Regions from separate parts of the Homo sapiens genome. Here regions 1 and 3 are each linked to region 2. The links come from fine-mapping of genetic effects on gene expression. A gene starts in region 2. Each other region holds a variant in brackets. All regions are shown on one strand. Distances are between the middles of the regions.

Region 1 (8,348 bases), 230 kb before region 2:
CGTCTGTAATCCCAGCACTTTGGGAGGCCAAGGCAGGCAGATCACCTGAGGTCAGGAGTTTGAGACCAGCCTGGCCAACATTGTGAAACCCCATCTCTACTAAAAATACAAAAAATCAACCGGGTGTGGTGGCAGGCACCTGTAATCCCAGCTACTTGAGAGGCTGAAGCAGAATTGCTTTAACTCGGGAGGCAGAGACTGCAATGGGCCAAGATCGCACCACTGTACTCCAGGCTGGGTGACAGAGCGAGACTCCGTCTCAAAGAAAAAAGAAGCAGAACAAATCATAATCAACTGCCCAGCTATATATCCTAGTAGCTCATCTTTATTTTACATCATGTAGTGGGGGAAATGATCAATGTGACCACATGCATCTCTGGTACTCAGATGATGTATTGGCAACACTGCACCACAAAACGCTGTTTTAAACCATCTTACCTCAAGCTTGTGAGCCCTCTCCCTGCTCAGGGGCTCCAAGGGAAAGCTCAGGTTGTTCGCTTCTGCCAGAGAACGAAGATCAAAATAATACTTGGCATAGACACTGGAAGGAACATTGATGTTGAACTGCAGCAATTCAAGAAACTGTCGCTCTAGCTCGTTCCTGCAAAGCAAAGACAAAAATAGCCTATGCTTAGCTGCCACACCAGGCCACGTGGCCTGCCAAGGCAAGTTGCTGGAGACCAGACTCCAGAAAACTGCATCCTCCAGGAAGACCAGTGATCTAAGTAAATGTCTGGTTAGACCACCATATTGGGATTAAAAGCCAAATCCACTTGATCTGGTGCCCAGAAGGATGAGGACTGGTTAACTGGGATCATCACCAGGAAGCGTTTCAGGGCGAATCACTTCACTGAGATCTAACACACACACAGCAGGCTCTGGCTGCAGGTCTCCGTGAGGACAGGCTGCTAACAAAGGGTGGATGCAGCAGCCAAGAGCTGCCACGTGGAGTCCAGTGAGGGCCCTTCCGCAGGGGCCCAGAGGAAAACACTCAGCCTCTGCAGACCTAGAGGACATTGGCTTCCTCGGTGGCCCCTCCCTACCTCCAGGGAGAAAAGAAGGGAGGAACTGTGTAGGGGCTTTCTTAGGCAAAAGGCAGGGATTATGGGGGGAGGGTGTCCAGTCTCTGCCTCAGTCTCTTAAAAAGAGAACTCACAAGCCGGGAAGAATGGAAGCAGTAGTTTCCACACTTGAGCACGCACCCCATCACCTGGTGGGCTTGTTAGAACAGACAGGGGGCTCCACCTTCACACTGTGGGGATCAGTAGGTCTGCAGTGGGGCCTGAGAATGTGCATTTCTAAGGAACTCCCAGATGATGGTGAGGCTGAGGCTCTTGCCCCGGGCCCACACTCTGAGAACCACTCAACTAAAAAGGTAGGTTGGGAGAGGAGGTGCTAAGATCCACCCTGCCAACCCATCTACATGTTGATGGAATGCTGGGAGAAATTCAAAAACTTCTACTTTAAGAACTTCTCATGTCAGCTATCTTTCAAATTAGGTTTATTTCTAGATAGTTCCTCTGGGTGGGGGGAACCTTCTCAGTGAGGGAACTATCTGTGGAGCACTGGTCCTGGGTCATGCACTCAGATTCAGCACGTTCTCCCCAGGAAGCCCCCAGGGGTGCCCACCCACAGGGTGCCCACCCACTGCACACCCTCCAGGAAACCTCCTGTCCTTGCCCACACTATGCAGCATGTGGCTGCTGAACTCAGCCTCTTGGGCTGTTCTCCTCATAGTCAGGAAGTGCAACATCTGCTTTTGCATGCCTGGCCCCCAGCACATGATCTCAGAAGGCTTCCCACAGCAGTGAGAGCTGAACTGAGGTGAGGGAAGCATGGAGCTCTGGCGGAGAGGAACCAGGGCTGAGGAGGGGGTGTTTCAGGCAGAGTGGGTCCCCTCCAACCTGCTGCAGGCAGCCAAAACACACAGTCACCATTTCCTGTGAGTGAAGCCAGGGCCCTAGTGCAGGGCCTCACCCTCCTGACCCTGATCCCAGCCTCGGCATTCTAAGTCATGTCCTGCCAACTCTGCTGAACGCTGAGGGTCTGGGTCTGAGCCTCACATGCAGGCACCATCCTGTCCTGAGTGATGTCCCGAGACCCCTATGGCTGTTCCCGGTGACTCATAGCACTCAGCTATGAAGGACTGAGGAGGGCTCCACACCAGCTCAAGTTGCTGTGACAAAGGACAAGAACAGTAAGGAGGCGGGTGGGGAGGCTGGGGCTGAGCAAGGCCAGTGGCTCTGGGGAGACATGAAGCTGCTGGGGAAAGGAGCACTGGGACCTGTGGGCAGGCGGCAAGGAAGGAGGCCCGAGGAAGGCCCATTCCGGTCTCTTCATCAGATGAAGAGCGTCACTGCTTGTTTCCACACAGCCTCGTGAAAAGAGTGATAACAAGCTCCAAATGTATTTACTGTACTAAATTTCATAGTTTTAAGAATTTAGGCTGGGTGTGGTCACTCACACCTGTAATCTCAGCACTTTGGGAGGCTGAGGCGGGTGGATCACCTGAGTTTAGGAGTTTGAGACCAGCCTGGCCAACAGGGTGAAACCTCGTCTCTACTAAAAATACAAAGAAAATTAGCCGGGCATGGTGGCACATGCCTATAATTCAAGCTACTCAGGAGGCTGAGGCAGGGGAATCACTTGAACCCGGGAGGTGGAGGTTGAAGCGAGCCAAGATTGCGCCATTGCACTCCAGCCTGGACTACAAGAGCGAAACTCTGTCTCAAAAAAAAAAAAAAAAAATTAGTCAGGCATGGTGGTGGGCACCTCTAATATCCCAGCTACTCAGGAGGGTGAGGCAGGAGAATCACTTGAACCCAGGAGGCGGAAGTTGCAGTGAGCCGAGATTGCCCCACTGCACTCCAGCCTGGGCAACGAGAGCGAAACTCTGTCCCAAAAATAAATAAATAAATAATAATTTACTTTGATTTGGGATAATTTTTACTTAAAACAACTTTTATTTATGCTTCATTTAAATGAGATTTAATAAGAGATCATCCTGTGAAATACTGGAATCCAGGTAAGACTTCAACAAAACGAAAGCGTCAGAGGCCCTGCTAAGGCCAGAACTGTCAAACGTCAAAGGAGCAAATCCCAAGTGAACCTGGGAGCTGCCATGGACACACCGCCGTCTGGTGGTCAACAGGCGTCACTGCAAAGCGTATTCTCCCAATAGTAAGAAGAAAAGTCTAAGAGAACAGCCTGATAATCCTGCCCAAAATGATATACAGACACCATGGTTCCAGATGGAGGCAGACACTACGAGCAAAGTCAAGAGGAAGCTGCTTTTGAACAAGGCGGTATTTTCCCAGGGTTCCCTGGAAAACAGAACAACCTTCTCCAAGCTTGAGTTTCTGGTTAAGCTTTGGGAAAATAGATTTTAGAGCTGTTGTATTTTCAAAAAATGAATTTTTTTCTAAAGATTTAGAAAATAAAAATAATTTCCAAAACTTGAATTTCCAAACTGCAGCAGCACATCTTTTACAGGGACACTGACAGCTTGCTATGTGATAAATTATCAGAAAACTAACGTGATGCCAAGAATGGGCCTGATGGATTTACTATCTGCATTTAGATAACTATGAAGAAACAGTTTTGGTGTAAAACGTTGTAAGAAATATATTCAAGTCGACCAACAAAAACCACATTTCAGAAATATTTGTCACACTAGATCAACACTGTATAAAAACCCAATTTGGTACAATTCAGCAACTTGAAAATAGAACTCTAAAATGATGT[TA/A]AAAAGAGCTGTTTTAATCATCTAATATGCTGCCTACTTTTCTAGAAACTAGGGTCACTTCCCAAAAGAAGGAGAAACAAAGTCTTGAAAAGGTATCTGCATAGCCACACTTACAGCCTCCACTTACTAGCCCAATGTGGAGGTAACCCAAGTGTCCATGGGTGGATGAGTGGATAAACAAAATGGGACACAGACCCCCAGTGAAGTATTATACAGCCCTAAAAAGAAAGGAAATTCAGACACACTACAACATGGATCAACCCTGAGGACATTATTGGCAAGTGAAATATGCTGGACACAGAAGGACACAGACTGTATGATCCCACTTGTGTGAGGTCCTGAAAGTAGTGAAGTTCACAGAGACAAAAAGTAGGACAGTGATCACCAGGAGCTGGAGGAAGGAGGAATGGCAAGTTAGTGTTTAACAGGGGGAGAGTTTCAGTTTGCGAAAATGAAGGGTTCTAGAGATGGATGGTGGTAATGGTTGCACAACAATGTAAATGTACTTAGTGCTACAGAAATGTATACTTAAAAATGGCTACAATCATAAATTTCATGCTACATACATTTTACTACAATTTAAAAACAAAACACCACCAGAAACCAGGTATCTACAGAGGAACTGAAGTTCTTTCTCTGTGACCTTCTGTGCCATGCAATGCTTGGACAAGTCACTTGATTTCTCCTTATTTGGATTTGTCTACACATGAAAATGACATTTACGGGAACAGTGCAAAACAAAAACAAGAAACAGACAAACCTCGAGGTGTAATTTTTTTTAACAGTATTTTTGCCTACAGAACTCTGCATGGTGAAATTTCACTGTCCTTTCCCCATCCACAGCGGTTGCCACTTCTTGCTCTAAGCTGGCCTGTGATGCTGTGACCACTGATTGTTGGTGAGAGTGGGAGAAAGGCTGGCCCTTGGCCCCATCTTCCCACATGAGGTCTGCCTGAAGCTAACATCTGACTGGTGCTGGTGACTATCCACATGGCCTGGTGCCCTGACTATTCTGCCTGCAAGTCTCAGTGACACTCGTCGTACAGTGTTCTTCAGCCTGCGCCCACAGATACGCAGCTGCACAGTCAGCTGCCTTCCAAGCCAGAACCCCTCTGTCCAAAGGTACATGGGGAGACTCCCAGTCAAGTTCTCACTGTTGGATAATTCTTGAGCAGGAGATTAGCCTATGGTCAAAAATACCAGGAAGGTCACTTCAGGAAGCTGGGACACAGGAGGCCAGGAAGAAGGGTACCTAGAAGAACAAGCACTACCAAAAACCCCATTTGAAAAGGTTTCCAGCTGAAACCTGTGAGCCCTCTCCCTGCTCAGGAGCTCCAAGGGAGAGCTCGGGTTGTTTGCCTCTGCCAGGAAACTGAGACCAGCTAACCACAGATTAACACACTGCTAAATGGCAAAAAGTTTAAAACAACGCGTACAGTATGGGCCCAGTTTTGTAAAAATAAAATCTATGTAAACACTGGGAAGTTCTATATAATAAAAATGTTAGCAATATTCTTTCTGAGTGATGGGATTATAGAAAAATGCAGCAGGGCAGCCCTTGATAGGATGGAGCCCACCCCAGGATATCTGAGACTTCTCCTGCCCAAACGCCTCCCACCCCACCCTCAGGCCCAAGCCACTGACTCTTTTCCCACTTGGGGATGAAAAAGAGGATTCTAGGATCTTGGGGACTTCCACAGCGTGCCAAGAAGGACAAGCTCCTGGCACGCACCTCCCTCATTCTGGGACACCCAAGTGGGATTTGTGGAAGGAACCCATTGTTCATCTAAGGTACTGCAGGTAGGGAGTGCAGCTTGGGTGGCTGTCCAGGCCCCTGTTCTACAGGCTGTGTCATCTCAGCTCTATTCCTGAAGTTATGCTGGGAAAACTCACCGGCAGTGCCTCTGCTCATCTTTACCTTGGTGCAGGGCCCCCAGCTTCCAGTGAGCCTTGTGCTACCTCCTCTCCCCATAAAGGGCTACCGAGGAGTCATGATTTTCCCTCAGCCATTCAGCTGAGTGATGTCCAATTCCACCAATTCCTGGGCTCACACGGTTTTACTGGGAAAGACTGAATGAAGTATTCATTTCTAAAAATTCTAATAGTAAATCTATTTTACTGTGCAGGTGCCACAAAATCACTTGGAGCCTCTAGCTCCACCAGCATCTATGTCCACAGATATCTCCAGCAGCTCCTAGAATGTAGATTTCATTCCTTCTTTTAATAAAGTTTACAGGGTGTATTAGTTTGCAAGAGCTGCTGTAATGAAAATGCTAGGGGCTTAAACAACGGGAATTTTTTCCCCACAGTTTGTGGCTGTAAGTCCAAGCTGTCAGCAGACTGGTATCTCCTGAGGCTGCTCTCCGTAGCTTGCAGGTGGCTGTCTGAGTCTCACATGCTCATCCTTCTGTCTGTTCCCTGTGTTCTGATCTCTTCTTCTTATAGGACACCTGTCATATTAGGTTAGGACCCACCCAAATGAACCAATGTTAATTTAATTAGGTCTTTAAAAACCTTATCTCCAGACATGGTTACATTCTCAAACACTAGGGGTTGGGAGGGCTTTGCATGTGAATTTGAGGGGGACAAAGTTCAGCCCCGCAACACTGCCTTCGTGCCCTTCAGAATTCATGTCCATCTTACATGCAGAACACACTCACCTCATCCTAACAGCCCCAAAGTCCTAATGCATTCCCGCTCCATCTCTAAGTCCCAAATCCTATCTAAATCTCATCTGAATCAGGTATGGGTGAAGATTGAGGTATGATTCATCCTAAGGCAAAATTCCTCTCCAGCTGTGACCCAGTGACCTGCTTCTAAAATACAATGGTGGCACAGGCATAGGACAGACATAGGACAGGCATCCCCTTTCCTTCCAAAAGAAAGAAAACTCAGAAAGAAAGAGGTCACAGTGTCCAGCAAGCCCGAAATCTAGCAGGGCAAGCTCCAGGGATTGAAGACTTAAGTCCTCTCTGCTGATGCGCCATCACCCACCCCCAGGTAGGCAGCCCTGCCTTGGCCTAACCCCCTGGAGCCAAGGAGGAAACAGCCTCACTCCAGGCTGTGCCTGCTGGGCCCATGGTGGCAGTGGCAGACCTGCTGGCCTCGGTACCATCTCAGGATCATTCACCCCTTTCCTTGGAGGATATCACAAGTCATGCCAGACAGTTCTGCTGGCCCGTGGAATGCCAGAGTACGACAGCCTTGCTTCACCTGTCCTGTCTCTGGGCCCTTTGGTGCAAGCCGGCAGCGCTTCTGCTGAGATGGCTGGCTGACTGGATCCATCTGTCACATCTGTAATCTCTTTAGCAAATGCTGTCCCAGCACCCTTGTGTTGCCTCCAGAGCACACTTTCCCATTTTTTTGCCATATGGATAGACTGAGATTAGAAGATTTGAGATTTCTAAATCTTCAGCTAGAAGATTTGGTTCCTTGTTACTAAATAATTCCTCCTCCTTCTGTTTCTCTCTCTCCTCTCACAGTATACTACGAGCAACAAGAGGGACTAGGCTGTGACTTCCACACTGTGCATGGAAATCTCCTTGGCTAAAACATCCACATTCATTTCTTAAACATTCCACTTTCCACAAAACACTAGAACGCTATTTGGTCAGGTCTTTGCCACTTTTTAACAAGGATCACCTTTCCTCCAGCTCCCAGGAACATGCTCCTCACTTCTTTCTGAGACCTCACCATAAGCACCTTGGACATTCATATTGCCAACAACATTCTGTTCATGATGACATGTGAATGCATCTAAAATGGTAGAGGCATTTTCTACAGCTGTCCTCTTTTCTGAGTCTTCACCAGAATCACCTTTAATGCCCACATTTCTACCAACAATCCCTTCAAGGCAGTCTTGGGTTTTTCTAATATGCACCTCAAAACTCCTCCTGCCTCTATTCCTTACCAACTTTCAAAGCCACTTCCACATTTTTAGGTATTTGCTACAGCAGCACCTCACTTCCCAGTACCAAAATCTGTATTAGTTGGCTAGGGCTACAGACTAGCACAGGTAACAAAGTCCCACAGACTGGGTGGCTTCAACAACAGAAATTTATTTTCTCACAATTCTAGAGGCTACTAGTCCAAGATCAAGGTGTTAGTGGGGTTGGTTTCTTCCGAGACCTCTCTCCTTGGCTTGCAGACGCTACCTTCTCTGTGTCCTCACATGGCCATCCCTCTGTGTTGTCTGTGTCCTAATCTCTTCTTATGAGGACATCAGACATACTGGATTAGGGCCCACCCTAATGACCCCATTTTAATTTAATTTCCTCTTTAAAAAATATATCTCCAAATATGGTCACATTCTGAGGGTCTGGGGGTTAGGACTTCACACATCTATTTTAGAGGAGACAATTCAGCCCATGTCATGAATAGCATCTGTTACAGGACTCAGCGGGACTCTGGACTTCAAGCTGGGATATGCATTCAATTTATAGTACAGAAAGTGTCTCTAAGCATGCTTGAGAACACAGCATTAGGAAAGAGATTTCTAGATCTGTAACTTTCATTTCACTCTCCTAAAACTGACTTGCTGGAGAACAAATCTGTGTGTGCAGGTTCTCCTTCTGGCTTCTTCTTTCCCAGTTGCTCTTCTCCT
Region 2 (8,348 bases):
ATTAAGCACCATAGACACCTAAGTTCCCAGACACTAAAATTACTGAAATTCTACAGGACAAGTATTACCCCTTCATGTGCCTGGTGACAAAGGGAAGAAAGCATGGATACATATGTCATATCTCTGTGATTTAAAGACACTAACCTATCATAGAAGACCCATGAACTTCAAACCTTTCTAAACCAGCTGGGTGGGATGTTTTTCAGGACATAAAAAATATGGTATTTGAGTACTTCAGCTTTTGATATATACTAGAGTCAATGATTCTTAAAATGTAGTTTTAAAATGTTTACTAATAACCTAACAATCAATATAACTCAGTTCAAATACATACAGATATAGATGAGCAAATACAGACATATAGATGTATATAGTGTGTATATATATACACTCTATTTAATTAAAACCTGTTCTCTTCTCTCAGCCTCTAATAATGAATTTCTACCAAAAATGTCCCTGAACGGCAGGTAACACTTCCAAGATTTGCCCAGCCAGCAATTCTCAGGCCTACCTGCATCTCAGAATCACCTTGGAGAGATTTAAACATATTAATGGCAATGTCCAGTACTAGATTTCTGGTTTAACTGAAACCAATGTTGAGAACTGCTGGCTGGGTCAATGCTAGAAGTATTATTTATTGAATTTGAGAGACAGAAGGTGAATTAATATTTCGGGGTTTAAACTAGCATAATCATATGAACTGGGATCTGGGATGAGAGGGCACTCCACAGCCTAGATTGGAAACCTGCCCTATACTCTCTCAAACTATCCTGAATCTGCAAAAGAGTCTTCCAAACATTCTCTCAAAAATTCCTGATGACTGAAACTTAAGATTTCTTTGAAATGAAAGAACACACAATATCATTTCACTGTACTCTGGCAAAATTGTACTGAGCCTTAGTGCCAAATACCTGGTTACACTTATTTTTTCCACCTTATTTCCTTACAATAGTCTATAATAACTGTATGCAGCCTGGCTCTAAGAAATGTAAATCTTCTTTTTTTTCTTTTTTGATCCATCATTCAAAACAAAGCCTCCGCTAGATACTGCACAACATAAAAAGGAAATTTACTGCACATCATAAAGAAGACATTATTTCCAAATGTTTTCGCCTGTCAACATAGTATAGGACTGGGTAATGGCTTTCTGTAATAAACTCATTCATTTATTCCTCCCTTTAAAGTACAATACTTACTGTTTATTATATGCTAGACTTTTCTTTCAGGTGCTAGAGGCTGTGAAAGTGATCAAGACCGATCTGGCCTTCATCCTTCTAGATGCCTTTAAATGCATAAATTTAAGAAGAAAGTATGGCTGTAGTTCAAAGACATCTAAGCGTATGTTTAAAATAATGGAAATCTAAAATAACAACACTAGACACGTCATATGGAACCATAATTTACTAAGCGCGTACTAGAAACCAGACGTTGTGTTACTCCCTTTATACATGGCACTCATTTAATAAAGATGCTCTCCTAAAAAGATTAAACTACCATTTAGAAGAAATTACACGAAGACAAACGAGAAAAATCTTTCCTTTAGCAAAGTTTAAATGTGGCCTTTCCACAGTGGAGAGAATCTTCCATCCTAAAGTGGACAGGAACGAATTATGAAGTTGTGTTCATTCATTCACACAAAAATTTCTTCATATTAGTTCAACCAGATTAACTATGAGAAGATGTTTGGGTTAAAAAAATCACCTTGTCATAAAAAGATACTTCCAATTTCAAATCTTTTCAGTTGAAAATTCTATAAACTATATTTTAAGCATGATGCATAAATATCCCTCTGTCGTTATCACTGAGCAACAGTGCTAATAAATATGTTGCCAAACCAATAAAATAAATAAAACATTACTGCGTGCAGTAATTAGTCTTAGCTTTTTTTCTTTTTGCAAACTCCAGACCAACCAAAAGTCACCTGAATAAATCAGAAATTCATAGGACTGCAATTCGGGCCCATGCAAAAACTGAGACTTAACCCAAAGGTGTCTGACAATCTTTTAAAGAGCATTCTCGGGAGAAGCTATTTGACTAATCCTGGAACCGCCACTCAAAAAAATCATTTTTTAAAAAAAACGGTAGAATGGGAACGGGGGAAGTGGAGTCCATTTGTAAGGTTCCGGGGAACTGACTCAACATGGTTCTCCAACTCGAGGTTGGAGACACCGGGATTCCAAAATGGGAATCCACTCACTTCGCTTTTATAGGACAAACGCGTGCACAACTTGGCTTCGGGCTGCATTCAGGTAGTGCCGGGAACCCCGAGCTCCCGGGCCGCCCCCACCCAGCTCTGGCCGCTCCATTAAGGACGAGGGCCGGCTCCTGTCACCTCGCGACCCACGCGCACACACCCGCCCTAGGCCCGCCGTGCTCGATGCCGCGGGCCTGCAAAGTTTCCGCGGCCGCTCACTTGGGGGTAACCAGCGAGGGGTACGCCCAGAGGCTGCGGGGCCCCGGGCGCCTAGGCTGCGCGGGCGAAGCCCCGGTTATGCACGGGTCGCCGAGACCGGCTGGGCAAGCAAGAGCAGCCGGGCCGCCCCGACGTTGGCTGTGCGACTGTTGCCGCGGGGGCGGGTAGGGGGCTCGGCGGGCCGCACTCACCGTCTATGTTCTCCCGGTCGCTGATGTGCTGCAGGTTGCAGCCCGTGTCCTCGCGGCTCAGGTCCGTGTCTGGCCGGTAGGACTCCAGCCGGGAGTGGGCATTCCTCCGGAGCTTGGGACTGGACGACACGCAGCACGAGGTAGTGTTCCCCATCTTCGGCGGCCCCCCGACTCCTGCTGCTATCCTGTTCTCCCAGTCCCCGGGAGCGGGGCGCGGGTGGACGCGGGGCGCGGGCGGCGGGGGCGTGTGGGGAGGCCCGCCCGCTCGCCGCCACGGGAGGGGGCGGAACGGCGGCCGGCCGCCGGGTCAGCAGCGGCGGCGGCGGCGGGGCCTCGCCATGGGCGGCGGCGGCGGCGGCGGCGACGAGCGGGCGACGGCCCCGGCTCCCCCTCGGCCGGCCTATCCGCGGCGGAGGAGCGCTCGGGTCCGCGCGACTGCGGCCGCCGCGCCTACCTCACCCCGCCGCGGCCATGGCGGGCGGCGCCGCGCAGGCCGCCTCCCCCCCGCGCTTCCCCAGTTGGTGTCCGCTTCCCCGGCGGCTGCGGCGACGGCGGCCGCCTCGGCAAGAGGTTCCGGTTCAAGCCGGGGGCACGCGTGTCCGCGCCGGACGGCGGGACTAGCCGACGAGCGGGCGGGCAGCGGGCGTGGGCGCAGCCCCCGGACTCCTCGCGGCGCGGTGCGGCGCGGCCAGGGAGGATGCTGGCGGCCCTCCCTCGCCAGCGGCGCCCGCCCTCGCCGCAGCCCCCGCCCCGCCCCGTCACCGCCCCTTCCCTCTGCCCTGGAAGCAGATCGGCGGCCGCGGGGAGGTTCGGGGCGGCGCAGCCCCGCGCGGTTGTGGGATCGCTCCCGGGGGCCGCTCCTCTCTCGGGCACTGGGGTCGCGGGAGACGTCGTCGGGAGCTCGGTTTCTGGAGGCCCTTCCCCACCCGGCCTCTGCCTCCTCCACTCCCCCGGGCTGGACGGAACGGGGCCCAGCGCGGGATGCGAGGTGCGTCCCCGGGGCCCGCAGCGGGCGGGAGCGCAGCCAGGGCCCGGTCGGGGACGCAGGCCCAGGGCGCTGAGGCTGCACCTGCCTCTCCGAAACCGGGCTGGCTCTTTTTGTCTTTTTATTTTTCTAATTTATTTTTTTAGAGGTATGATTTCGCTCTGTCGCCCAGGCTGGAGGGCAGTGGCGCAATCTCGGCTCACTGCAGCCTCGAACTCCTAGGCTGAAGCGATTCTCCCGCCTCAGCCTCCAAAGTAGCCGGTACTACAGGCGCGCGCCACCACGCCTGGCTAAGGTGTGTGTGTGTGTGTGTGTGTGTGTGTCTCCAAAGTAGCGAGGACTACGGGTGTGTGTGTGTGTGTGTGTCTCCAAAGTAGCGAGGACTACAGGCTCCCGCCACTACGCCAGGCTAAGGTAGGGTGTGTATGTGTGTTAACTTTTTGTAGAGATGGGATCTCCCTTTGTAACACGGGCGCCCGCCACTAAGCCAGGCTAAGGTGGTGAATGTGTGTGTGTGTGTGTGTTAACTTTTTGTAGAGATGGGATCTCGCTTCGTAACCCGGGCTGGTATCGAACTCCTGTCTTCAAGGAATCCTCCCGTCTGGACTCCTCCCATGGGATTACGGGCATGAGCCACGGCACCTGGCTATTTTTTTTTTCTAAGCATTTAAATAAGCTGGGGCTTGATTTGGGAGTTTTCTATTGTATTTTGAGCTTTGCCGAGGACTTGATAGTGACCTTGCTTTAAGCTGTGAAATAAATCTTGGGGTCCCAGAGCTATTTTAATATTGAATTCGCTGTGGAGTTGTTTTGAGTTCCTTGGAGGTTAACATGAGATAGAAAACTAAGTTAACACAACTCATCGACTGCCCTTGCTTTGCTTTGCTTTGCTTTTAGAATGCCATCGGGTTTTGTCATGTTGGGAACAAGTTAACTTAGGCCAGTTGACTAAGATCAAGGTATGTGAACATGCCTGGCTGGGAGAGAAGTAGAGTAAATGTTGGTTCGCATTCCCTCCCGACGCCCACAATGCCAGCCATCCCTGACTTTTCTTGCCTTTATTGGGAAGAATATAAGGTGGCAGAAACAAACTTCCCACCCTTTTTCCAAATATTTACTGAAGGAGTCTTGAGGAGAGTCTTGTGGGGTGGGGGGGTGGGGGTGGGAGCTGGGAATGTTTTTGAACTAGTTCTTGAAAAAAAAACTAGTACAATAGTACAACTGTCTTAATTTTATATATGAGGAAACTGAGGCCCAGAGATGAAATCATGCCTTGATTTATGCAGACCTCAGTACCTGTTCGTGACAAATCCAGTTACTAAAAGGTAAGAGAAGGAATAAGGGACTTGATATTTATCTAGCATCAGCAATGTGTGGACATCGTGTGAACGGCTTTATAAACATTTCATTTAATTCTCTACATCTAGCCATTTTTTAACCTGTGCTTTCCCTCCCTCTCAAAGTACTGTTTATACATTTATTAGTCCATATTTTAAACGCTCCATGCTCTCAACTGTATTAATGCTATTTGTTAGGATAAGTGGCAGATGTCCATGGAAAATAAGTGGCTGCAAAGTGGTAATGCTGACCAGATGAGAAAAGAAGTGTAAAAGGGAAGTTCTAAAGAATTAAAGCCCTGGAGAGGGTGGGTAGACAACAACAGTCCAAAATAGTGCTCTTCATTGAGGCTGTGTAGATTTTCCTGCTTCCTGGGAAAACTGGGGCATATTTACACTTGCATGTGTGTATTCAGATTGTCTGGGGCTATGGAGTTTGGGTCAGATTGCTGAACCCGTGGGAGAGAAGTTCCCTTGTTGTCTGTTGTTGTCTGTTCTGATTGCTGCTTTGTAATTTGGGCCACATATGAAAGTCAGCATCCAGTCATTGGACCATAGGTGTGTGGCATATCTACTCAGATGCATTAAGCTATTTTTATTTCATTATAAAATGTATAACATTTACATTCAAATTATGGTTTGAAGGGCTTAAGAGGAGAAAGAGACAGTGGCACTAAGGTGACAGCATGGCTGGCTGCATGCTTCCTGTCCAAGAAGGTCACTGGGCAGTGTTAACTGGGAAGAGCATCTGGAGGATGAGAGATCAGTGTAGCCACATACCCTTAACAAAGGGTGGTACAGCCTCTGGTCTGCCAGGATTTTTGTGCCCCGCCCCCCTCCCCCTCTTTCCCTATCTCCTCTTTGACATTTCCACCATATTCCCCTTAGGTATGTACCTGTTTGGACTTTAATTTAGAGTGTAACTTTTGGTCAAGAATCCTGGAGAGAAAAGACGGGTACTAAAGCCTCGCTAGTGATTTACCTGGGTGCCGACCCCCACAACTCATCCACCCTACATGCATACTTCAAACTCCTCCAGGCAGATACTCCCTGCCTGACACACAGTGACACTTTGGGAAAAATTGCAGAACAGTAACCAACTCTGAGCAGATAAATGTGATGTCAAAATGATAGTAATGAGAGATGTCGTTCGTTGAAAGCCTGCTAGCTGCCATGCACTATACTATTTCTTACATCTAAATCTGATTAAGTTATACCCCATTTTATAAATAGACACTTTGATAAGTAAACCTATCTAAGATCAAAATACTGAGAAATGTCCTAATTGGGGATTTGAACCTGGTTCTAATTCCAAAGTCCAAGCTACATCCACCCCAACCTCCTACCTCCTATCTCCAAGACTTTGTGAGTAAAAAAACAAGTGTCACTTCTCTCCTTCTCTTTTTTCTGTCCTAAAGGAAGCTGGGAGCTAACCACTTAGGACTAGTACTAATCTTTCAGAGAAAGGGATGAGGGGAGCCTTGTTATTTCTGTGGGGTTCAGCTCTCAGACCAGAGTAAGACAGGCAACAAGGTTGAGGAGTAGCCATATGCAGAAATAACCTGTGTATCTAGCCACAGGATCTCCAACACTGTGTCACTCGGGAATCAAAATACAGAGACAGTTCCTCAATAGAGTGTGGATCTAGCCCAGAATGTGGACAAGGGGAGTGGAGAAGGGGAGAGGTACACACTGAGCATTGTAACAAGGCCTGTCCTCAAGCTTGAGGAGGATTAGGAAGATGGCTTGAGTCTGGGAGTAGGAGGCTGCAGTGAGCTATGATTGTACCACTGTACCCCAGCCTAGGTGACAGAGTGAGACCCTGTCTCTTAAAAGAAAAAAAAAATTGACCTGGATCTACTCATACCCACCCTGGTCTTTGAGCAGAAAGAATCATTTGGGAATTATTTTGTCTCATCTTTCTCCATGATCACTGTTGAAGAATTTGGTCACTGTAACCAGGTAAATATAAAACTCAGGTGGGCCGGGCGCGGTGGTTCACACCTGTAATCCCAGCAGTTTGGGAGGCTGAGGTGAGTGGATCACGAGGTCAGGAGATCAAGACCATCCTGGCTAACACAGTGAAACCCTGTCTCTATTAAAAATACAAAAAATTAGCCAGGCGTGGTGGTGGGCGCCTATAGCTCCAGCTGCTCGGGAGGCTGAGGCAGGAGAATGGTGTGAACCCGGGAGGTGGAGGTTGCAGTGAGCCGAGATCGTGCCACTGCACTCCAGCCTGGGTGACAGAGCAAGACTCCGTCTCAAAAAAAACTCAGATGAACTATAGCTAAGTCAGTGCTCTTGACACTTTTTTAGCAATAGTAGCTTTGTTTCTCACAGAAAAAACAAAATTTTCTGTGGAACCACACTATTTAAAACATAAGCAATATTAGTATCAACTTGTATAATTTATAGATCTACTGATAAAAACAATCAAGAATAGTCTACCTTAATTGAATCAGGAGGAGATAACTGCAGTCTTACATCAGCCATACTCGTATCCATGAAATATGAGTCAGTCATTTGCACAACTCCCTGAGTCACCTTCTGGAACACAGAAAACACTGAGCCAAGTTAGCCCAGGACCTGAACCTTTTGTGGAAAGGAAAATCTGTAGTGTCTCCTCAGAGTATGGCTGCCCTTTCACCTGGTAGTCAGTTTCTCATGACGGTTACTCGAGCATTTATAAGGCAGTTGTGAAATAACCAAGACATTCTGTGTGTTGTGCTACTGATGCTCCTCCTGTCACCGACCTCCTCTCCAAATGAGGCCTGCCTTTTGTCCTTGGTAGTAGGCAGTCCACAGTGTAACCAGCTACAGGGGAAGTATTTACTTTGATAGCCACTTGACCTTGATCAAGTCAGGTGACTCATTTCTGGATAACATTTTTGAGAGTATACTGAGCCAGGCACCTTGAGGATACGAAAGTGGATTATAGTTTCCATTCTGGAGAAACTCACAGTCCAGTAAGTTAAACAATCACAAGAACAAGTTTCCAGCAATGAGAGTGATTACAGCCACTGAGTGGTGAAATCTGAGAAATGCAAAGCCTGCCGCCTATAAATACCTACATTTATCGCCTGGGCATATACCTAAAATTCCACCATGAGAAATATATTTATATGAAATTAGAAACTACCCAGAAATTGTGCGTCCAAATAAAAATTCCCACAAGAAATAAGGATGGCTAATAGTTTTAAGTAGTAGTGTCAAGTCTTTTGGACCAGAGTAACTGCCAGGGACGTTGTGTTGAGGATTCTGAGGTCATGTTCCAGCTTAGCCGAGAAGGGAGCCACCATGAGGGAACGAGTGAGGGAGGGTAGCACTTGTGCCCCATATTTTTTCCTAAGTAAATCATTTGTTGATGGAATGCATGATGAAACAGGGACAGCCAGGGTCTCTGGCATCTGGGAGAAAGCCCA
Region 3 (8,348 bases), 250 kb before region 2:
TGTGTGTGATATGTTTGAGTGTTCAAACTTTATTAAGTTGCTAGTTTTAATTCAGTGAGTGGCACATGTGGGCATGGTGCTTGGCACTAGGGATACTACGGGGCCAAGCCTCTGCCCAGGGGGTCTCCATGTGGAATGGGATGCAGGAAGGTACCTGCAGGTCAGCAGCGCAGCAGGGTGCAGTATCCGGGTTAGGGCTGTTTCTGAAGGAGAGGCGTGGCAGGCTCCGAAGGGATGCGAGGGTCGCCAGGCTGTGATGGGCAGGAAGCAGCACATGCAATGCCCTAAAGCTGGGAGTGAACCTGCGGGGTACCGGGCACTGTGTGCAATGCAGGACAAACAAAGCCTGGGCGGGAACAAGGTGAGGGTGGAAGCAGGGCCCTGTTTGGTCCTGGGACAGTGTGGGTTCTACCCGATCGACAATGGAAAGTCACTGAAGGTCTCCATTGGAGGTGACACAGTCGGATCTGCATTTGAGGAAGATGGCATCACCTGTTGTGAAGAGAAGGACCCAGAAGGCGGCAGCGGTGGAGGTGAGTGCCCCTCAGGCTGCCAGGGATGGAACCCGGGGGTTCTGAGGAGGCCAAGTCCAGAGCGATGGGCATGAGTGAGGGTGGAGACAACCCAAGGGGAGGGAGCCTCCTGGCCCAGGCACCCAGGCAGATGGGGTCCCTCATTAAGAAGGGACAGGTGTGGGACACAGGGCCAGGGAGTGGGAGGAAGGGTGGCCTCCGTCAAGTAGAGGTGTCTGACAGACGGATGTGAGGACAGCCTGAGCTAGAGACAAAGCCCTGGAAATACTCGAGTAGATGAACTGCTGTTTAATGACCTGTCCATTGGAGGCATTTCGTGGTTCTTCAAAGGTAAGCTTCCATCTTTATCACTTGTATCACAGGCTCTCACCAAACGCAACTTCCCTTCTTGCAGATGCAGTGGGACCTTGATTTCTCACGAGGTGTCAGCTTTTTTGTGGAAGGTCTTGTTGAAGTGGAGATGTCCATTAACCTAACCCACCATAACACATCTTTTCCACACCTTTGATTTTCCGGTCCCACCGCCTCCCTTCATTCCTCTTTCATCCTCTTCTCTCCAAATGCAGCTGCCCTGTTTGCACCCTCAGCTACCTGTTCAAGTCTTTCCAAACAAGCATGAGGTTACGCACCTTGGGCAGCACGACAGGTTGCTACATCAACTATTTTTATCATCCTCTTTCTGCCATAGGAAGCTGGAGCAATCTAGTCTTCGGGCCTGGGCCCTCCTGGGTTTTGGTGAAGAGCCATCCTCCGTGGGTGGCAATTGGTTTGCCTGGGTTGGCTTCCTCCAAGAAAAGCCAGAGGGCTGGAATCATTCAGACCTCCTGAATCCACAGTGAGTTGACTCTCACAAATGAGTGAGCTCATGTAAAGCACCCTCATCTGTAACATTCTACCATCTCCCCCAATCGCCAAGGAATGCAGGTCCTGAGCATCCCGCCTGGGGCTCGGGCTCTAAAACAATAAACTGCAATGCTGGGAAGTTGTGCGCTGTGCCCAGTTGCTCCGGTTATTTCAGGACATTTTCCTGCTCACAGGCCTGATTGCCAGTACGTTTCCGTAGGGGCACCCGGTTGTCCGTCAACTCAACTTGTTTACTCTGACAAGTTTCATGTACAGGCAGAATGTGATTGGGAAAGACGTCTTCATGTCATTGAATACCGAGACTCTTCTAATTTTTATAACAGATTACACAGAGAACAAGATGCATAAGTATATGAAAATATTATTCACAAAATCAAAGATATTTCAACAGCTAGAGACGTTCAAATTTCCCCAGGATTTGGTTCAAAGAGATTGATCATTGACATTCAGGGGAAGCTGCATAAAGGCCATCCCTGATCAGGGAAAGTAGCAGAATGAGGTTGGTGTTGCACTGAATTAGGCTGATTGGGTCCCATGGATGTATTTTTCCTGTGGGCCAAATTTGTATTCTCTGTGAAGTAAAAAAAACAGGCCCGGGGAAATGAAAATGGCATGGGGAAGATTTAGAGCCTGTCTTACCTTGTTCACATTAAATGTTTTTATTGTAGCAGAGTCCTTGGAGCTTATATTTGTGACACAATTATAGCGTTACAAAAGTTTCAGGGAGGAATACGTCAAGCAATTTGCAAAAGTAAAGGTCCTGTAGTGGAGATAATAAAATACAGAACTTCAGTATACTCTCTTGTGAGCAATCTAATAAAATACAGAACTTCAGTATACTCTCTTGTGAGCAATCTCTGCTGCTGACTAGTGAGTAAAAAGATGAAATGTTGTAATTGGACCTAAAAACCTCAAGCACCAGCTAAGCACGGTGGCTCATGTCTGTAATCCTAGCACTTTGGGAGGCCAAGATGGGAGGATTGCTTGAACTCAGGAATTGGAGACCAGCCTCCAGCATAGCAAGATCCTGTCTCTACTAATATTCAAACAAATTAGCCAGTCGTGGTGGCACATGCCTGTAGTCCCAGCTACTTGCGGGGCGGGGCTGAGGAGGGAGGATCGCTCAAGCCTGGGAAGTCAAGGCTGCAGTAAGCCCTGCATTCCAGCCTGGGTGACAGAGAGAGACCCTGTCTCAAAAGAAAAAGATGTCAACAAAAAAACCTCAAGCACCCACAAATGTACAATTTTATGTGCAAAATGCCTTGTCCACTACCAACTGGTGGGCCTTTCAAAGTCCCATTTATTGGAGCATGAAGTCAAGGATGAAGAAGGCACTGTGGATTAACAAACCAGACACCTAATGGGGCAATGGATAGGAAAATATTTTAATGGGTATTTAGTACTAGGTTCTCTAATAAATAGTCCAGTGACTAGTGGAAAAATCCTTTTATATGTCCTTCATTCCTTTCAAGCAAGGAATTTGCACTCACAAGATTTTTTTAAAGCAGTATATTCTTTCTTTTTTTTTTTTTTCAGTCTCACTCTGTCACCCAGGCTAGAGTGTAGTGGCGTGATCTCAGCCCACTGCAACCTCCACCTCCCAGGTTCAAGCCATTCTCCTGCTTCAGCCTCCCTGGTAGCTGGGCTTACAGGTGCCCACCACCGCACCCCACTAATTTTTGTATTTTTAGTAGAGATGGGGTTTCACCATGTTGACCAGGCTGGTCTCGAACTCCTGACTTCAGGTGATCCACCTGTCTCTAAAGCAATATTTTCTTGATTCATCTCTGTCATCAATAAATAAGTCACTAAGATTTCTAGGGAAGCAAAATTAATAGATAGAATCTGAAAATCTAAGAAATCACATGGAGTTTGTTCTTTCTCCCAAAGATTTTTTTTTTTTTTTTTTTTTTTTTTTTTTGAGACAGAGTCTTGCTGTGTCGCCCAGGCTGGAGTGCAGTGGCATGATCTTGGCTCACTGCAAGCTCCGCCTCCCGGGTTCACACCATTCTCCCGCCTCAGCTTCCCGAGTAGCTGGGACTACAGGCACCCACCACCATGCCCGGCTAATTTTTTGTATTTTTAGTAGACACAGGGTTTCAC[T/A]GTGTTAGCCAGGATGGTCTCAATCTCCTGACCTTGTGATCCGCCCACCTTGGCCTCCCAAAGTGCTGGGATTACAAGCATGAACCACCATGCCCGGCCCCCCAGACCTCTTTTTAACAATGGACCATCTCATTTCACTCCACTGGGAGGTAATAGGGTAGTGTGATTGTGAGTGTGACTTCAGAATCAGACCAGCATGGGTTCTAATCCTGGCTCTGCCACCCTCAAGTTACTTTCTCTTCCCCTAAGTCCTTTCAGCTGAAAAGTGGGAAATGCAGATGCCCACTGCACAGAATAACGGCAGGAATTTTTAAATAATGTAATGAGTGGTTCTTGCATTTGTTTCTTAGAATCGTAAAGTCTGGTCAGGGTGTGTCAGGGGTTACCATGTGGCTGGAACTGGCTCTCCACAGTTTCTTCCACTGACACAGATCTGCATGCCTCTGACCTGTGTATACTGGGGTTCCACGGAGGAGCTCATTGTATGACAGGCCTGTGCTGCTGGAAGTGGACAACGATAACGACTGGTTAACACCATGAGAAGGTGGCCCCTGGCCATTTCTACCTCTGCACGACTGTAACTCTTAAAGGGTCTTCCTTATACTGAGCAGAAATCCATGTCTCAGAAACTTTTACTGATTCCTGGCTCTAGTTCTGCCCTCTCCATTAACAGAGTAACATCCATCTTTCAGCAGTCCTTCCAAGTTAACGTTTCACAGCCCCATCCACCACAGGAGAAGCTGGGGCCACTCCTCCATTAGTTTTTTTGTTTGTTTGTTTGTATTGAGATGGAGTCTTGCTCTGTCTCCCAGGCTGGAGTGCAATGGCTCAATCTCAGCTCACTGCAACCTCCGCCTCCCTGGTTCAAGCCATTCTCCTGCCTCAGCCCCCCAAGTAGCTGGGATTACAGGTGCCCGCCACCACACCCAGCTAATTTTTGTATTTTTAGGAGAGACGGGGTTTCACCATGTTGGCTGGTTATTTGGCCATAGAAACAAGTGACCATCAGAACCAGTTTAAAACCCATTCTCCTTGATCAACGAGGATTTCACATCAGCAGCCAAGGGCAGGCAATCCGCAAGTCTTAAGTAACCACACTGACGCAGGCAAATGCCAACCAATCCCTAAATGCTCTGGGCACTGAAATCCCTGAACTTCATGCTTTCCAAGGCCCTGTGTGAGATCAGCTCTTCCCTTTGCTCAGAGACTGTCTCCTGCTTAGCAAGCAAGGAAGTCGGCATTCTGTTCCAAATGGGGAAGGGTAGGCTCTGCCTTTGATGGGAGGCACACAACTTAGATTGTAAGGAATAAGCAGGGTACCACCAGAAAATGACATGCTGCCAAAGAAATTGAATCAGGAGGGCTGACGGTGAGCCATTATGGGGTGAGACAGAGGGACTGGTGCTACTTTAGATGAGCTACCCAGAAAAGGCCAATGAAGACACAACTTTTGAGATAAGACATGAGCAATGAGGAAATCCATACTGAGACATTCAATGAAAGTCACGGGCTGGGCAGGTTTTGAGATGGAAAAAGCACCTCAAACCTCAAAATGAGAAATTGCAAGCTCAGAAAAATAAAACTCTAGTCCAGCAGAACCTGCTAAAGTAGGGGCCACGGCCTCAGAGAGGGGACAGGTGGTGACCATGCATGAAATCCCTGAGTTTCCAGATTCTCTGAAGCTCTTAAACTGAGACCTGGCGGGAAGGGGATGTCACCTGGGGGCCAGGCAGCAATTCTGAAATAGTAACACATAGATTTCTGCAAAATGCCATTAATAAGCCAGACTTACCATCTGTGTGGGTTCTATATCCAGCAACAATAAAAATAACAGGATCCCCAGACACCATTCTTGCTTGTAGGTGCATTATTTGCTAAGTACTTTTTAAAGCTAAAATGTTGCAGCTGTCTCTTCTCCAAAGACGTGCATGGAGATTGATGTGACAGGTGTGGCCTGCCACGCTCTGTTTAGGGGCAGCTGTAGATTAACTGCAAGTCCTGTTTGGTTGCTGATGACGTGACCTTTGCCAAGTCACCTAGCCTTTCTGCACTTCGGCTCTATCTGAAAAGCGATGGGGATAGAACATCTGTTCTACCTACATCAGGGAGTCGCAGAGGAGATGAAGAAGAAAGCTTTGAAAATTGGAAGTGCCTCAAAATATGAGATCAATACTATGTTTCTGGAAAAATGTTACATTTAAAGTACATATTTGTAGACCGAATGACACTGTACACACTTCCTTAGTTGACGGCCAGAGTCTCCTGTATTTGTGACACGCATCTCTACTAAGACTGCTCTTTCCCTAACACTGTCCTCGGCAATGCTGAGTGGGTGGGCTCCGGACTCTTGGTTCATGTGCTTCCTGCTGGAATTCCTTTCCTTTCTACATATCCAGATTCTACAACACAACCAGTTCAAGCTCTGCCTCTTTCCTGAAGCCGCCTCATAGCTCTACTTTTTATTTTTAATTGAAAAACAATTGTATATATTTATGGGGTACAATATGTTCTGATACATGTTCTACATTGTGGAATGATTAAATCAAGCTACTGAGCAAATCCATCACTTCACGTACTTATTTTTGTGTGTGGTGAAAACAACTGAAATCTACAACTTTGGAATACACAATGCATTTATGATGGTAGCTGTTCGTTCAATAGATCACTAGATCTTACTCCTCCTAAGTGAAACTTTGTACCCATTGGTGCAGCACTCCCCTTTGTTCATCCTCCTCCTTTCCTATCCTCTGATAATCACCACTCTACTCTACTTCTGAGTTCAGCTTTTTTTAGATTCTACATGTAAGTGAAATGATTGGATATTTGTTTCTGTGCCTGGCTTATTTCACATAGTGATGGACACCTAGGTTGCCTCCCTGTCTGGGCTATTGTGAACAGTGTTTTAATGGGAGTGCAGCTGTCTCTCCAGCACACTGATTTCGATTCCTCTGGATATATAGCCAGAAGTGGGATTGCCGGATCATATGGCAATTCTATTTTTAGTCTTTTTAGGAGCCTCCATATTGTCTTCTAGAATGGCTGTAATAATTCGCCTTTGCAACAGCAGTGCAAAGGGGCTCCCTTTTCTCCATACCATTCTCACAGGTGTGATGAATTCTGATAGTTTTCCAGGTGTTTCTTTTAGGTTTTCTTGGTAGCAACCACATTAGCTTCAAGGTTACTGAACACGAGATAAATGACTGTAGAACCCATGAGTGCCTGCAGGAAGAAATGATGTTCAAGAACCACTTTATCTACATTTCTATACCTCCAGCTTTCCTCCTTTTGCTCAAGATGTGACTATGGCTTGATCCCTGTCCTGATCTTCTGGACCTGTGCCTCACCCCATCCACTCACTCACTGGACAGGGCTGGCATGTATTGGGTCCTGGGGTTCAGCAGGGAATGGGTCATACAAGGCTCCTGCCTCCTGAGTCAGCATTCTAGGGGCAGGAGGGCTTGCCACGCTCTGTGGTTGTAGGGGTAGCTGTAGATTAACTGCAAGATCTGTTTGGTTGCTGATGACGCGACCTTGACAAGTCACTTAGCCTTTCTGCACTTCAGCTCTACTGAAAAGCGATGGGGACAGAACAGCTGTTCTACCTACATCAGGGAGTTGCAGGAGAAAGCTTTGAAAATTGGAAGTACCTCCAAATATGAGATCAGTGCTTTGTTTCTGGGAAAATGCCACACCAGACAATAATCAAGTGAACAAGAAAAACAGCAGACAGTGGGGAGAGCCAGGCAAGGCTTATGGTTGGGCAACACAAGAGCAACAAGGAGGGCCCTTCCCTGGGGGGTGGGCTGTGGTGAGAGGAGGCCTGTAAGGACATGGCATTGAAGCAGACGTCTGTTCTACCTACATCAGGGAGTCACAGAGGAGATGAAGAAGAAAGCTTTGAAAATTGGAAGTACCTCAAAATATGAGATCAGTACTGTGTTTCTGGAAAAATGTTACGTTTAAGGCACATATTTGTAGACTGAATGACACTGTTCAAACTTCCTTAGTTGACGGCCAGAGTCTCCCATATTTGGATACGCATCTCTGCTGAGACTGCTCTTTCTCTAACACTGCCCTCAGCTCTACTGAAAAGCGATGGGGATAGAACATCTGTTCTACCTACAACAGGGAGTTGCAGAAGAAAGCTTTCACAATTGGAAGTCCTCCAAATATGAGATCAGTGCTTTGTTTCCGGAAAAATGCCACACCAGACAATAATCAAGTGAACAAGAAAAACAGCAGATAGTGAGAAGAGTGAGCAATGCAGGTATCAGGGGGAAGCACGCCAGACAGAAACAACAATGCAGAAAAAGTTCCTGAATCGAAACAGAACTTGGTATACTTAGAGAACACACTAGACAAAAGGGAGAGTAGGAACGAGAGATGTGACATTTGTCAGGTCCTGTGATTTCCCACTCAGGAACATGGCACGTCTCTTTCGTTCAGGTCTTTCGTGATGACTGCCGGCAAAGTTTGGCATTTTCTTTTTGAGATGGAGTCTTGCTCTGTGGCCAGGCTGGAGTACAGTGGTGTGATATTGGCTCACTGCAACCTCTGCCTCCTGGGTCCAAGTAATTCACCTGCCTCAGCCTCCCAAGTAGCTGGGATTACAGGTGTGCACCACCATGCTCAGCTAACTTTTTGTATTTTTAATAGAGATGGGGTTTCACCATGTTGGTCGGGCTGGCCTCGAACTCCTGACCTCAAGTGATCTGCCCACCTTGGCCTCCCAAAGTGCTGGGATTACAGGTGTGAGCCACTGCGCCCGGCCGGCATTTTCTCTATTTAGGAATTGCACCTGTGTCGGTTTCCTAGGGCTGCCATAACAAATTTCCACATGCTGGATGG

Evidence for each region. PIP is the estimated chance that this variant, and not a neighbour inherited with it, causes the effect.
Region 1: its variant is fine-mapped to the expression of CCNY in whole blood (TOPMed, PIP 0.99).
Region 3: its variant is fine-mapped to the expression of CCNY in whole blood (INTERVAL, PIP 0.92).

Annotation. Positions count from the first base shown.
Region 1 is chr10:35,558,276-35,566,623 of GRCh38, reverse strand. CCNY (cyclin Y) reads right to left here. Exons shown (of 10, transcript NM_145012.6): 9 at 439-601. Among named protein-coding and RNA genes, the nearest start is that of GJD4, 43 kb to the left of the region's middle. RefSeq lists enhancers at 1,573-1,652, 1,923-2,032, 2,093-2,202. The variant TA/A (reference allele first, on the strand shown) is at 3,745.
Region 2 is chr10:35,331,464-35,339,811 of GRCh38, reverse strand. CCNY (cyclin Y) reads right to left here and starts at 3,303. Exons shown (of 10, transcript NM_145012.6): 1 at 2,605-3,303. The coding sequence starts at 2,758. It overlaps CCNY-AS1 (CCNY antisense RNA 1), which reads left to right and starts at 3,388. Exons shown (of 4, transcript NR_186477.1): 1 at 3,388-3,592; 2 at 3,736-3,884. RefSeq lists a silencer at 2,938-3,677 and an enhancer at 7,277-7,571.
Region 3 is chr10:35,577,391-35,585,738 of GRCh38, reverse strand. It overlaps LOC107984221 (a long non-coding RNA gene), which reads right to left and starts at 4,292. Exons shown (of 3, transcript XR_001747422.2): 1 at 3,887-4,292; 2 at 2,037-2,157; 3 at 1-1,704. The variant T/A (reference allele first, on the strand shown) is at 3,501.